Homo sapiens: one gene and its partner. The protein of the gene in region 2 interacts with the protein of the main gene of each other region in a pairwise test. Each region holds a gene or a part of one and is shown on either strand. Other genes may lie near its edges.

Evidence for each region. Proteins that work in one complex are often made in the same cells at the same time.
Region 1: the proteins of PLEKHA2 (region 2) and M1AP interact in binary tests that used the Homo sapiens proteins (3 or more experiments, as listed by UniProt).

Annotation. Positions count from the first base shown.
Region 1 is NC_000002.12:74,561,322-74,568,344, forward strand, and holds part of M1AP (meiosis 1 arrest protein), read right to left. Parts: intron 1,103-7,023; coding exon 896-1,102; coding exon of another isoform or gene 833-895; exon of another isoform or gene 253-832; intron 1-252. UniProt on the Homo sapiens protein: Required for meiosis I progression during spermatogenesis.
Region 2 is NC_000008.11:38,896,987-38,904,366, reverse strand, and holds the start of PLEKHA2 (pleckstrin homology domain-containing family A member 2), read right to left. Parts: upstream 3,022-7,380; 5' UTR 2,922-3,021; intron 2,604-2,921; exon of another isoform or gene 2,298-2,603; intron 1-2,297. UniProt on the Homo sapiens protein: Binds specifically to phosphatidylinositol 3,4-diphosphate (PtdIns3,4P2), but not to other phosphoinositides. May recruit other proteins to the plasma membrane.

The sequences.
Region 1 (7,023 bases), on a different chromosome or scaffold from region 2:
TCTATCACATCTCATCTTGAAGCCCTTCCTATTTTGGGCACCTACATTGGCTGCCTTTTCTCAACAAACATAAATGAGCGCAAACACAGGTATACACATATGCACACGTGCAATGCAGACAGACCCCTAAGAACACACCAGCACACAGATGTGCACAGGCGCATCTACACCCACTGCCACCAATTTAGAGACCCAACCACAGACACACTCGGGCACAAAAACACACAAAGACACGAAAACCCATACAAAGGCTGATTTTTTGGGTCTCCTTTTATTCCCTTCTCCCTTCTTTTTTCTTCTGCTTTCCACTGTGTCTTCTTTCCTTTCCCTCCCAAAGTTCTGCTCTCCCTTGTCTAACTTCACAATCTCCTCTCTGGGGAGGAGGTGGGGGCAGGAGAACCAGTCTGCGCAAAGACAAAACCAAACCAAACAAGCGTCCAGTGCATCCCCAGGAGCTGGACCTGCTGGTGTTGTGGCTTCCTCCCCTGCCTCCCTGTGCCCTGGCCTGACATCAGGTTTCCACTCTGTGATGCTCCCTTTTCTCCTTCACAGCCACCCATTCCTCAGATTTCAGGTCCGTGTGCATGTCGTGTGTCCTCCAGGATGGCTCTAATTCCCAGTCATCACTGATGCCAATATCCCTTTTCTCTCCCAGTTTTTTGTTCTCAAACCTCATTTCCCTCCATTCTATTTCACTCCTTACCCTGCTGCCATAATCTAAGTGTTTACTTCCTTCTTCTGGCATAATTGCCTATCCTTGCTTTCTCTTCTTACTCTCTTACCACACTCCTTCAGCTCCGCATCCATTCCCTCATGGGCTCACTCCTCTCCCTCATCCCTTTCTCAAACTCCATTCGCTTCTAGATCTGTCCCATGAGATCTGGGCTCCACTTGCCTCCACATTCTTAAGGCTATCATCATGTGGGTCCTCAGGTAGCAGGGGGAAGGTGCTGGGCAGCATCAGTTCCCGCGTGGCCACCGCCTTTACCAGCAGTGTGAGGGAGTGTGACGGCATGATCACATAGAAGGTGCTGGCAGGAATTCTCTGGCTGTGTCCTGGGCCCGGTGGTTCCCCCTTGGCTAACAGCAGCCATTCCCTTTTCTGAAACAAGGACATACAGAAATACTGGTTCATCTTTAGTCTATGGCATGGTTTGAGGATCAGTCCCAATTGAAGTTTCCCTGACTTCCAGGGGTGCTGAGGAGGGCAGAGCCATTTAACTTCGGCCCTGGTAGGGAGGGACTTCCTGCATGAATCATCAATATCACAATGTACTACTCTTCCTCCCTGGTTTGAGATATGCCAGAGAGAGTATATAAAAGGGTCAACAATGGAGAGAAAAGTTAAGAAATTCCCTGTAACTTGAAGTAGGTGTTCATCCCAGAGGGGCCTACCACATTCAGCATACATGTGGACTTTTAAGAATTATAATTCTTAAAAACAGAGTCTTGAAGCCCATGGTGCGTGACTGTACCCGTAGCTACTCAGGAGGGTGAGGTGGGAGGATTCCTTGAGCCTAGCAGATCAAGGCTTCAGTGAGCCATGATTGTACCACTGCACTCCAGCCTGGGTGACAGAGTGAGACCCTCTCTGTCTCAAAAGGAAAAAGAAAAAAGCAGTGTCTTGAAACCAAGACTTGTATGGGGTGTTGTCTGTTGTAGAAATTCAGTTCTTCTTTTGAGGGTAATAAAGTCTGGTTGTTTGCTAACAACTGGGATTAGAATGGGCTGACTGGGCAGTATCCCTGGAATGTCCAGAGAGGGTACAAGGTAGTAAGGCCAGATGTGGTGGCTCACATCTGTAATCCCAGCACTTTGGGAGGCCAAGCCAGGAAGACTGCTTGAACCCAGGAGTTCAAGACCAGTCTGTGCAACATACCAAGACTCTACAAAAAATTAAATAAATAAAGATAGATAGATGATTGATAGATAGACAGACAGATAGAGAGAAGGCAGTGAAAGCAGCCTGCAAAGTGGGAGGAGAAAGAGAGAGCAGGGCCGGGAGCGGTGGCACACACCTGTAATCCAGCACTTTGGGAGGCTGAGGCGGGTGGATCACCTGAGGTCAGGAGTTCTCGACCAGCCTGACTAACATGGTGAAACTCCATCTCTACTAAATACAAAAAAATTAGCTGGACGTGGTGGCGCATGCCTGTAATCCGAGCTACTTGGGAGGCTGAGATAGGAGAATTGCTTGTACCTGGGAGGTGGAGGTTGCAGTGAGCTGAGATTGCACCATTGCACTACAGCCTGGGCAATAAGAGCGAAACTCTGTCTCAAAACATAAAAAAAAAAAAAAAAAAAAACATAAAGAAAGAGCAGAGGGAGAGGTGGGTGGGTGCAGGGCCCTTGAGATCATCTCAGCCAATCACAGGACAAGAAGAGTCAGGATTCTGGGGGCAGTGCCTCTGTGGATGATGGGTTATTATGGAACAGAGGGTGGCACTTTGCCATGTGCCATGGTGATGGCAGAGGTTAGGGCATGGGTAAGAAGAAGAGACAACCAGACTTCTGAGAAGATTTTGTAGATGTACCCTTTTAAATGAGCCATGAAAATGAGGCAATTTTTTTTGTGGTAGCTTTTCAACAAAAAACACAAAACTCCAGGAAATATGGAGTTAGAACTATCATAATCATCTCAAACTGTGTCCTCTTACTGGGGGTGATCTTCAGTTACATCTGGTACAAACCGTAACAACCTCCCTGCTACATAAGATAGAAGAAAACACATGAGTTCTGGCTACTCTTATATGAAAAGTTGAGACAAATAATAAAAGAGGAAAGGCAAAAAGGGGGAAAAGATTTTTAGAGGAAAGAGGATTATCAGTGTCTTGTGGAAGACAAATAGAAAGTGACACAGTGAGACAGAAAACACTTGCTGTAGCATGAGAGTTAGACCCCACGGGACACATGCTGGGGTGGGTGTAGGGGAGGCTCTGCACTTTAAAGCAGTGTCATCATTCTGTGCAGTGCGGAGCTCTGAGGAGGTCTGGTAGGCACAGCAAGTGGTAGGAAACCTGTTAACAGCTCCAAGAAAAACAGGTATGTACCATTCCTGCGGTTGCTGACCTCTTTGTGGGGTAGGACTTGACTGATAATTCGGGAGGCATGATGCATCCTCACTAGAAGGTTTTGGGGGTGGGACAGATGATTTGGGCATGGGAAAATTAGTCATAATCATAATTACAAACTTTAAAGGAATGCTTATCAGGCACCAGGTACTGTGCCAAGAGCTTTATGCGTGCCTTCAGAAGTTCATGCTTTCTTAGCATTTTGCTTCTATCTAGAGATGTGCTGTCTTCCTGAAGAACAAATCCAAATGTGCAGGAAAGTCAGCTTGATGCTTAAAATCCATCATGTTGGAAATAAATGGTATACAAATCATGGTGTGTGTGTATGTGGATTGTGGGTTGGACCTGCCCCTGCTCTGAGGACATGGCCTGTTTAAGCCTGGAAGGGATAGAAACCAGGAAGTTTCAGGGGACTCCATTTCAGTTGGCTTAAGTAACTTCTGATGGGGCTCAGGATTTGGATTATTAGTATTATTTTAAATCTTCTATTTTTACATTGATTCGTGCATTTACTTGTGAATTTTTTGTCTATTAAGAATTTATTCAGGCCAGGCACAGTGGCTCACGCCTGTAATGCCAGCACTTTGGGAAGCTGAGGCGGGCAGATCAACTGAGGTTAGGAGTTTGAGACCAGTCTGGCCAACATGGTGAAACCCGGTCTCTAATAAAAATACAAAAACATTAGCCAGGCATGGTGGTGTATGCCTGTAATCCCAGCTACTCAGGAGGCTGAGGCAGGAGAATCACTTGAACCCGGGAGGTGGAGGTTGCAGTGAGCCGAGATCACACCACTGCACTCCAGCCTGGGCGACAGAGCGGGACTCCATCTCAAAAAAAAAAAAAGAATTTATTGAGCGCCTATTATGTTCCAAGCACTAGGTGTGGGTACACAGAACCATGCCAGAACAATGACATCATGAGAAAAGAAAACTATAGATCAATATCTCTTATTAATATAGATACAAAAACCCTAACTACATATTAGCAAATCAAATTTAGCAACATATAAAATGAATTATATACTGCAACAAAGTAGGATTTATCCCTAAGGCTGGTTTAATACCCTCAAATCAACTGATGTAATATACTATATTAACAGAATAAAGAACAAAAACTACATAATCATCTCAATAGATGGAGAAAAAACATTTGGCAGCCGGGCGTGGTGGCTCACACCTGTAATCCTAGCACTTTGAGAGGCCGAGGTGGGTGGATCACAAGGTCAGGAGTTCAAGACCAGCCTGGCTAATATGGTGAAACCCCATCTCTACTAAAAAAATACAAAAATTAGCCGGGAGTGGTGGCACGTGCCTGTAGTCCCAGCTACTCAGGAAGCTGAGGCAGGAGAATCACTTGAACCCAGGAGGCGGAGGTTGCAGTGAGCCGAAATCACACCACTGCCCTCCAGCCTGGGCAACAGAGTGAGATGCCGTCACACACACACACACACACACACACACACACACACACACACAAACATTTGGCAAAATCCAACACCCTTACATAATAAAAATGCTCAGTAAACTAGGAGTAGAATGGAACTTCCTCAACCTGATAAAAACCTCTATAAAAAAATCCACAGCTAACCTCATATGTAGTGGTGAAAGAGTGGATTCTCTGCCTCTAACATCAGAAACAAGGCAGAGATGTCTGCTCTTGCTACTTCTATTCACTATTGTCCTGGGAGGTGTGCTGAAGACCAGAAGGTCATTTTCCACATTTTCTGTACTGTGTTAAGCTCTTTGGATTCTGGGTATGATCCTAGGGGTAGAGGCACCCATGAAGATATTGCGTGTGTCAACATCCTGGCCCTTGGGAACCAATGCTTTCTAAATTTGATTTAGAAAAATATAGTAATGTGACATTTCTCATATCAGAGAGCTATGGTGCAAAAGGTCTAGATAGATGTGGCAACAAGTACATGGGTGTGGAAAGGCAAGAAAGATGAATGGGGATAGGCTGTGGTGGAGGCAAGAAAGGCTTCATACCGAAATTATTTAAGCAGGATCTGGAAAAAAATGAGTAGATATTTGTCAGGTAGACAGAGGCAAAAGGAAGAGAACAGCATGAAAAAAGGTGTGGAGGTGTGAAACAGTTCAGCATATTTGGAGAACATTCAGTCATTTATTAGTGTGACTGGGGGGAAGATGCGAGGGGCGTAGGTGAAAGATGAAGCAAGAGAAACAGACAAAGCTAGGTCACAGGAAGCCCACTGACTCACGCTAGGCTGCTGTTCTAGCACCTGTCTATCCCCCCCACCCGCCCAGATGCTACACTGTAACCTCCATCATTCTGTTCTCGAATGGCTCCTGACCTGCCATCACCCCACTCTCAGCTTGGATTCTTGGTCTTGAGTCTTTGCCTATTTAACCAAGCACTTTCCATCTCCCCACCCAGTTATAGCCCAACTGGCTCATTGCCTGTGTACTTAGACTCCTGCTGAACACATCATGGCTTGAATCCTGTAACTTCTGTGGCCAATTAGGGCAGACATGGACTGTAAAGCTCTGGAATGTGTCTCCAGAGACTCTGACATTTTAAGTAGGAAACTGAAAGACCTAGGTGGTATTTTCATTTCTTTTTCTAGTTCACACAGACATGACTTTGTAATTGAAATGAGGATGTGGAAAGTGAGTCACTAGCTACATAACTAGGACTATACAGCAAGATTTGGTAATAGAAATGATATTTTCCTGGCAATGGATAGATTGATCTCATAAAGACTTGGAAAAAATTAATTTTATTTATATATTTATTTCCTACCACATTCCACAAAACAGCTATGCCAGTTTAGAAAAATGGAACAGCATAAAAAGATAAAATAAATAATTAAGGGGACTGGGTAAAAGAAAAATAAAAGTAGGGCAATAATACAGCCAGGATTAGATAAGCTCACAGAAATACAAACCATCCACTTTTGCTAGAAGGGAGCCCCATAGCCTTTCCTGATATAAAATGTGGGAGAAGCTGTCTGTGGCTTCTTATTGAGTAGTGAATATATTTCAGAGCACTCCTGCAATCAATATGCTGATAAATTTCATGTAGCTGTAGAGTGGTGTAGAGTTTGGGGCCTGAAGCCAGCCTTTCAATCCCTACTCTACCATTTACTCTCTGGGCCTCAAATTCCTCATCTGTAAAACAGGGATAATAATTCTTACTTCATAGAATGGTTATGGGGATAAAATAAGTTAGTAGCTGTGAAGTGTTTAGAACTGTGTCAGGTACATGGTAAGCACCATGAAGTGTTAACTTTTCAAAATGAAAACTACATTTAATTATGAATGTTTATTTAACTTTGTTAAATTAAAAATACGTGAATAATTCTTAGATATAGATCTATAAAAGCTCCAAAGAATGCTGCCAAAACACATAGCTTTCTTGTGGTCTGTATTAATCTAAGAGTGACATTTACGGGAGTGGTGGACAACACATATTTTTCAGAAAAGACTGGGAAAAGTCTTGCCTATCTGATGAAGTGATCATTTTCTGAGGAAAAGCAAGTGAAATACCTGAATAAAGCAAAATAATCTGTGAGGAAGACAGAAACAATTTTCAAGTGAAAAATCAGGGAATGAAATAACAAGCCTGTGATTGACTAAGGCTTAGAGTATGTGTAAAATGTAATTTGAAAAGTTACACAACATTTATAGTCGACGAGGACTGGTGCGTTGGCACTAATCACTACGACTTAAGGGCAAGTGAAGAGGCAGTGGTTGAATAAACTGAGCAATACCCACACTTGTAAGGAAATCCAGGAGCCTGAAAATGAAAACATGGTGAAGCCGGCCAACTGGCTAAGGGGAACTTAGAAGATGTGCTGTTATGTCTGAACAGATAGCAAAGGGGGAATAAATGAGCATTTAATAAACATCTACTTCTGCATCTAAGTGGGTTACAGTGGCCAGAGGCAGACTGGTTCTCCTGCCTAGAACAATCGGAAAAGCTGGATAAT
Region 2 (7,380 bases):
AAAAGGCACACCACAGGGCCAAAGCCCCCAAGCCTTTTGCCCACACTGGGCAATATCAGGAGCCCCTGCCCCAGCAGGGCTGGGACCTCCACAGTGAGAAAGCCCAATTCCGGCTTTAATGCATAACAAATCACTTCAGTCAACTGGGGTCAGGGCAGGGAAGGGGCTTTCAGAAGGAACAGTAGGGTCTCACTACACCAACCCCCGGCCTCCTCTACTGACAGGATGGGGCCGCATCCCTCCCACCTCTCAGCTGCCCTATCTCCCCCGCCTGTCCAATACCCCATCTCAATAATGGGCTCATATCAGGCAGGGCCAGGGTTCTTCTCTTCCCATAGGCCAACACACTATAATATTTGCTTTCCTTCCTTCCTTTCCAAAGCCTACCAGATTAGATTGCTGGAGTCCCATCCAGCTCACTGAGACAGATGGAAAACGGAAAGTAAGGCAACCCAAACTGTTCATGGTGGAAAAAGAGAGGGGGCAGAGCAACCCAACGTCCCAGCACCCAGATCCTCTTTTCCAAGCCCTAGGTCTATCACAACCGGAATAAGTCGAGCCACAGCAGTTTCCGTGAATCAGAAGAGATATTCTGATGCACTGTGGTCTGCAGCAAGCTCTCATCTGAGTCATCCAGCCTTTCAGCAGGGGCATCACCCACCTGTCCATCTGTCCCATGAATTGGACAGGAGACCAACGCTGCTTGGGTCTTCCTAGTATCCTAGCACTTCGGCAAACACTTGGCAAGGTAGTGGGAGGGCTGCTCTGGGGCTCAGCTGATAGGGCTCATCAGCCTTCCCCTTCCCACTTCTGCAGAACAAAAACCTGCACCAACCAAAACCTGCATGTCTTCAAGATTTATTTTAACCACTCAAAAATACCGAGCTGAATATGGTTCAGCTCACTACCATGACATGATGGGATCTGCAGGCCCTATTTCCTTAACACAGAAGAGAGAAGAAAGCACCAATGACAAGGAAAAAGAAAGGGTTGCAAAAACTCTTCACCAAAGGGCAGGCAGTTTCTCAATCAATACCAAGGTAATTACCAATCTGTGAAATGAGCAAGGCTCCCATTACCAGCTAGCTAAAACCCCACTAGGAGTGCCATAGACAATTTGTAGAAAGCATGCTGTAATGTACAAACAGGGTCAAAGGATACTTAGGTGTAAAGGCAACATCCGGACTAATAACTCCCATGTACCAGCTTGGAGAACCAAATCCCTACAGGTTTGAGGAACAACCACACTGCTCTTTTCTCTGCCATTTGGACAAGTGCAAACAATTCATGTGTTTGCATTCATTCATTAATGCAATAAACATTTACTTAGCACCTGGTACATGTCATACGTTGGGCTGGCCATAATCTAGACTACAAGCTAGACCTCTGATAGTGCAAAAGTCATCTGCCTTCAGGCGGCACATGGTGAAGAGGGCTAATGTCTGAGATGATGATGATGCTTTCTAAAAGCTTACTCTGGCTTCTCAAAACAAGTGGGGGGCTTACAAGTCCTGTAAGCTCGCCAAAGACAGGGTCCAGCCCTCCAGAGGTAAAGGAAAAAGAAAAAATAAAGACAGGGGTTGTGTTTTGTTCATCACTGCCTTGCATGTATAATACATGTCAACTGAATGCAACTGAAATAGAAAGCAAAAACTTCTATTCTTTCAAGATCTTTTGCTTTGCTGTTTCGGAAGGCTTCGCAACCAAAGAAAAAAAATGACAAAAGAAGGGAAAATGGGACTTGGTCAGATAGATTAAGAACACCATTAGTGCAATCTTGGGACTTCAGCCCCAAGTGCATCTACAGCTCAGCCTTCAGAGCCCCCAGAGCCACAGCTGGCTTTCTGGTGGGGTGCTCTCCCCTCCCTCTTCTCTGCCGTTTACTGTCCTCTGAAAACCCCACTTGGAGCCCTAAAGAAAGAAAGGGGGCGGGCAGGAAGAAGGAATGAGAAGGGGAAGATACATCCTGAACCTGCGTTCACCAAGAAGGAAGGAAGCCAAACCCTAAGGCTAGGGCCTGGGGGCAGGGCTGGCCCCGGGGAGGAGATGTGAGGGTGCTCCGGCCGCAGCGGGCCCTGCGCCCCTCTCTGGGCGTGCAGGGACACTTTTCCCTTCTAAACGGCCTAGCTTCCCACCACCCCCCCCCACACCCTTCTTTTCTCTTTCTTTTTAAAAAAATTTTGGTGAAATCGTCTTTAGGACTGGAGGAGAAAAGGGAAGCGTGTAAGGTGAGGAAGAAGTTGGTGAGAGAGAGAACGACAGCTCCCCTCGAGGGCTCACCCAACCTGGCACCGAACCTGCATTTTAGGGCAGTCCTTTTCACTGTCTGGAGTTCCAGAAGCCCGAAGTCCAGGCTGCACCCAGAGGAAAGGACAGGAGTCCCTAGGGGAGCCTTCTAGGCCTGTCATTTAATAAGGTAGTCGGGGGAGTGAAAGAGGAGTCTCCATGGCCCAATCCGTACCCAAGGGACTTGCCTGGGGACGTTCTCTGCTCTCCTCCCCTCCCGCAGCCCGGGCAGTCGTTGCGGGGTCGGTGCCCCAGCGCCAGAACCCGCAGAGAAGTTTCGCTGCTGCAAACGTGAGAAAATGCAGCTCAGCAGAACTCCCGCCCCCACCCTCTCCGCGGCCCCACCCCCCGCAGCCCGACCCCTGGCGGCGGCGACCTTGGCCACCCGGGGCACTTGGAGGAGGGGCTGCCCTCGGGGCTCTCCCAGAGGGTTGGAGGAGGCCTCCAGGGTCTGCGGCCACCTCCCCTCGCCTGTCAGCCACTAGGACCGGCGTATTCAGCCCTGCGCGCGCGCCCCTCGCGCCCCTAGGCCGCCAGGCCTCCGCCGGGGCGCCCCCTGCACCCCCAGCCCCGCCAGCCCCCGCGCGCCCCTCTGCGCCTCTCCACTCCCGAGCCCGCGAGGGCGCCCAACTTACCCCCCCGTGCAGGGGCCGGGGCTCGGGCGGGGCGCGTTACATCGGGCGGGGTCGCCCCTCCGGCCGCCGGGTCCGCCGCGCTCCAGGGATTTCTGGGTCTGCCTGCCAAACTCTCCGCGCCTCTCGCTCCCCTCGCTCTGGTCTCCCCCAGTGCCCCCTCCTTCTCTCCCGTCCCTCGGCTCTTTTTTCCGGGTTAATTACGTTTCGCATTAAAGCAAAACCCAGCCCCGGATGTGAGTACAATGCTCCGCGGAGCCCGCCGGGGAGGGAGAGGGGTGCCGGGGCGCCGCGGGCTGGGAGGGGGTGCGGCCGGGCGCCGGGGCCGCGCGGGGGAGGCGGGGGCGGGGCGCCCGGAGGCTGCGCCCGAGGCCGCCCGCGTTCCGCGCCTGGCAGGTGGGACCTGCGCGCCGAGACTGCCCCGCGGGGAGGCCCGGCCCCGACGCTCGCTCGGGCAGCAGGTGTCCGGGCAGGGGGCGTCCTCGCAGGAGGAGGCGAGCTGGAGCGCGAGCTCCCTCAAGAACCCCATTTCCTCCTCCCAGAGCCCCACCCAGCGACCTCAGCTGGGCCTCCTTCGGATCCCGAGCCCTTAGCCTTTGGGGACCGAGGAGTTGGGGTAAGGGTTAGGGTCCCAAGAAGAGTGGCTTCTTCAGGTTGTCCTAAATGTGCCCTAAGAGACCAGTGGGCGGGAACGCTCTAACCAGGGTTATAAGGACTTTAATTTCTTTATTTTATTTTATTTTTTAATCAAGACAGGGTCTGGCTCTGTCGCCCAGGCTGGAGTGCGGTGGCGCAGTCATAGCTCACTGCAGCCTCGACCTCCTGGGTCCAGCGATCCTTCTGCCCCAGCCTCCCGAGTAGCTGGGACCACAGGCGCCTACACCGTGCCCGTTGGGACTTTTTCGGTGTGATGCGAAGACTCCCTTCCTGCCCCCAGAGCATGAGGGTGCTCTGGGAAAAAATGGGAAACAGACAAGCATGTGTTACTACGTAAACCTCGCCAAGAGGAACTAAGAGAGCTGCTGTGCGCGGGTCCCGCCCCTGCGCTATCTCATTTGATCCACGCCGCAACCTATGGGTACCAGTCCGGTTCACGGTGAGGAAACCGAGACTCAGACTTGTGAAGTAATTTGCCCTGGGTACCCAGTTAGTAAACGGCAGGTCTGTCAGGTTCTGACTCCGGCCTCCCACGTCGGGAGAGAGACATTTGAATATGCATCAAGTCAGGTGGACAACATCCGAAACATGAAAATGTAGAAGATTCGCGCGGGCCTGCGGGGCCGTGCGCCGGTGTCTGGCGATCCTAATGCAAACGTTGTTAATCAGGTGTAAATCCTACGAGGCTTTGAAAGAGGCAGGCATAAGAAGACGCTGAGGTTCTCCAGGACAAGGACTGGATTTGCAGGAAGGAGGGAGAGGCTGGGGCACATTCCCGGTGTTAACAGAGGAAAGGCGGCCTCTTATGTCTCCACGACCGACCGGAGGCCACAAGGCCTGGGGAGGGGGGCTCGGGCCGATGAGCCAGGACCGAGGGAGAAGGACAGCCCGCCCCACACACCCCGAAAGCACCAGTGATGAAACCACACAAGTTTCCTCTTCCATTTTGATTGCCAAAGCAAAAATGAACACCGCCGGTGTCTCAGGTGTGAAAAAAGACTGTTTGCTTTAGAGCATTTTGCTTTCAATGAGGAAGAAAAGGGGGACGATGGGCAAAACACACACACACACACACACACACACACACACACACACACACACACACATTTCCCTTGAAATAAATACATCAATGTCTTTTTTTTCCCCGTTCATGGAGGGTTTTGCCACTCATCTGTAAGTTTCAGGCACCAGAACAAACTGAAGAGCATCTCCTCTGGAAGCAAGGAACCTGGATTTGAAGCCCAGCTCTGCCGTTTACTGGCTTTGACCCCTGGGCAAGTTACTTAACTTCTCAATGCCTCTGTTAGGAAAAGTCAGTGAGTTAACATTTGTGAAGTGTTGAGATTCCTGTCGAACGTGAAGTAGGTGCTACGTAAATGTTTTTTAAATTTAAAAATTAGATGATCATTTTCAGTATGAAAAGCAACACAATTCCATCCAGCTCCAAGCAAATCCGACTGGAACTGAGGGTTTCCAGCATGAGCAATGAGGTAAATTTCTCAGATTTCAGGGTATGGTTCATATTAAACTCATAAAACTCTACTCCCCGTGGGGCTGCCTGAGTCACTCCATCACAGAGCCACAAGTATTTCCTGAGCACTACTGTTTTGGATGCTGGGAGGCAAAGAGAAGCAGAAGGCCTTGGGTGGCAAGAGAATACAGGTGTCTCTAGAAGGCTGAAGCAGGCTTGTGCCCTGGGAATGGCACAGAGAGTAAGTGCTGTCAACTTTTAGAAGGACAAGATATAGCCAGGGGCAGTGGCTCACGACCTGTAATCCCAGCACTTTGGAAAACCAAGGCAGGAGGATCCCTTGAGTCCAGGAGTTCAAGACCAGCCTGGACAACTAGGGAAACTTCATCTCTACAAAAAATAAAAAATATTAAATTAGCCAGGTATGCACCTGTGGTCCCAGCTACTCTAAAGGTTGAAATGGGAGGGTCACTTGAACCCAGGATTTTGAGGCTGCAGTGAGCCATTATCATGCCACTGCATTCCAACCTGAGTGACAGAGTGAGAACCTGTCTCAGAAAAAAAATAAATAAAAAAGAGGGAAATGTGTCTCTGAATGGGGGATGGGGGGTGGGGGGGGACGGTGGGGGAGCTCAAGAAGGGAGTGGGCTTTGAAATGGGACTTAGATGGATACAGTTTGACACCAGTGGGAGGAGGCCAGGAACATGTTGGGCTGAGGGAAGGTCATCATCAGTGCACTCGGGGAGATGCTCATACTTCACTGGAGCCCCATTTACTGCTACACTTGTCCCTGGCCAGGACCTGGCCCCAGTTAGATGACAAATCCTGCACTAATGTCCACTCTCTTATTCCTGGATCTCCCAGGGCTTCCTCAGAGGGACCCCCACCCCCACCCTCCTCTCATGTCACCTTGAAGCAGGCGTCAAGTGAGTCTGTGCCCTGCTATGTTTTGCCATCCCTTTCTCTCTTTTTGGGGGGACACTTTTTTATTGTGATAAAGTATACATGACATAAATTTTACCATTTTAAAGTGTATATGTAGTGGCATTCGGTAAATTCACAATGTTGTACAACTCTCACCACTGTCTAGTTCCAACCGATTTTCATGGCTTCTAAAGTTGACGCCATACCTATTAAGCAGTCACCTCCCATTCTTCTCTTCTCCCAGCCCCTGGTCACCACTAACTTGCTTTCCATCCAGTCTACAGATTTGCCTATTTTTGATACTTCATATAAGTGGAATCATATATATGTGGCCTTCTGTGTCTAGCTGCTGTTGCTGCTTTTTTTTTTTTTTTTTTTTTTGAGACAGAGTCTCACTCTATTGCCCAAGCTAGAGTGCAGCAGCATGATCTTGGCTCACTGCAACCTCCGCCTCCCAGGTTCAAGCGATTCTCCTGCCTCAGCCTCCCGAGTAGCTAGGATTACAGGCCTGCGCCACCACACCCGGCTAATTTTTGTATTTTTAGTAGAGACAGAGTCTCACCACGTTGGCCAGGCTGGTATCGAACTCCTGACCTCAAGTGATCCATCCGCCTCCGCCTCCCAAAGTGCTGGGATTACAGGCGTGAGCCACCGCACCTGGCTGTGTCTAGCTTCTTATGTTTACTTTTGCCATCACTTCATTGACACATTTTGAAAGTACAGTATTGCTGTTGCCTAATTTTATACTTTAATTTTGTTCAGTGCAATAAACAGCCCTGATGTCTGAGAATGTGACTGTACCTGTGGGGAAAGGAATGTCAAAAAAGGACGTTTCATGTGAGCTATTTCAGCCCCCTTGTTGTACCAAGGTAAAATAAAGCTCAACAATTTGCTCAAGGTTTTGAAGCTATAATAGTTAGTGGCAGAGTTGGTTCTAGAACCCAGAGTTGACTACCTTAGAATCTTCTAGTATTGGTATAGAAACCTTGCCACCAAGATGAAAACTTCTGGCCTAGAACCTAAGAATCTCAACAGAAAACCTTATGCACTACTCTAAGCATTTATTTATGTACTTTCTATTCATTTTCAATGTTAATGGCTGGTTAGCTAGATAACCTAACAACCTCCAGTGGTGAGCCAGTGTACCCTGCAGGGAACTATTGTTCTGTCCTCATAGATACCCATTACATAAGGCTGCAGCTGGGGCCAGTTAGTTCTATTAGGGAAAGTGTGGGGCCAAAGAGGCCAAGGTCATTGGTTTGATTCTGGCTCAGGCCAGTTCATTTTGCACAGAGATGGATTGCTCCAGGGCTATACACTGCACCTCTAATGTTAGCCAGTCATTTTATAAATAGTTGCTATGGGTTTTGATAGCAAAGTATGAATAGTTCTGTACCATCCATTTCTAG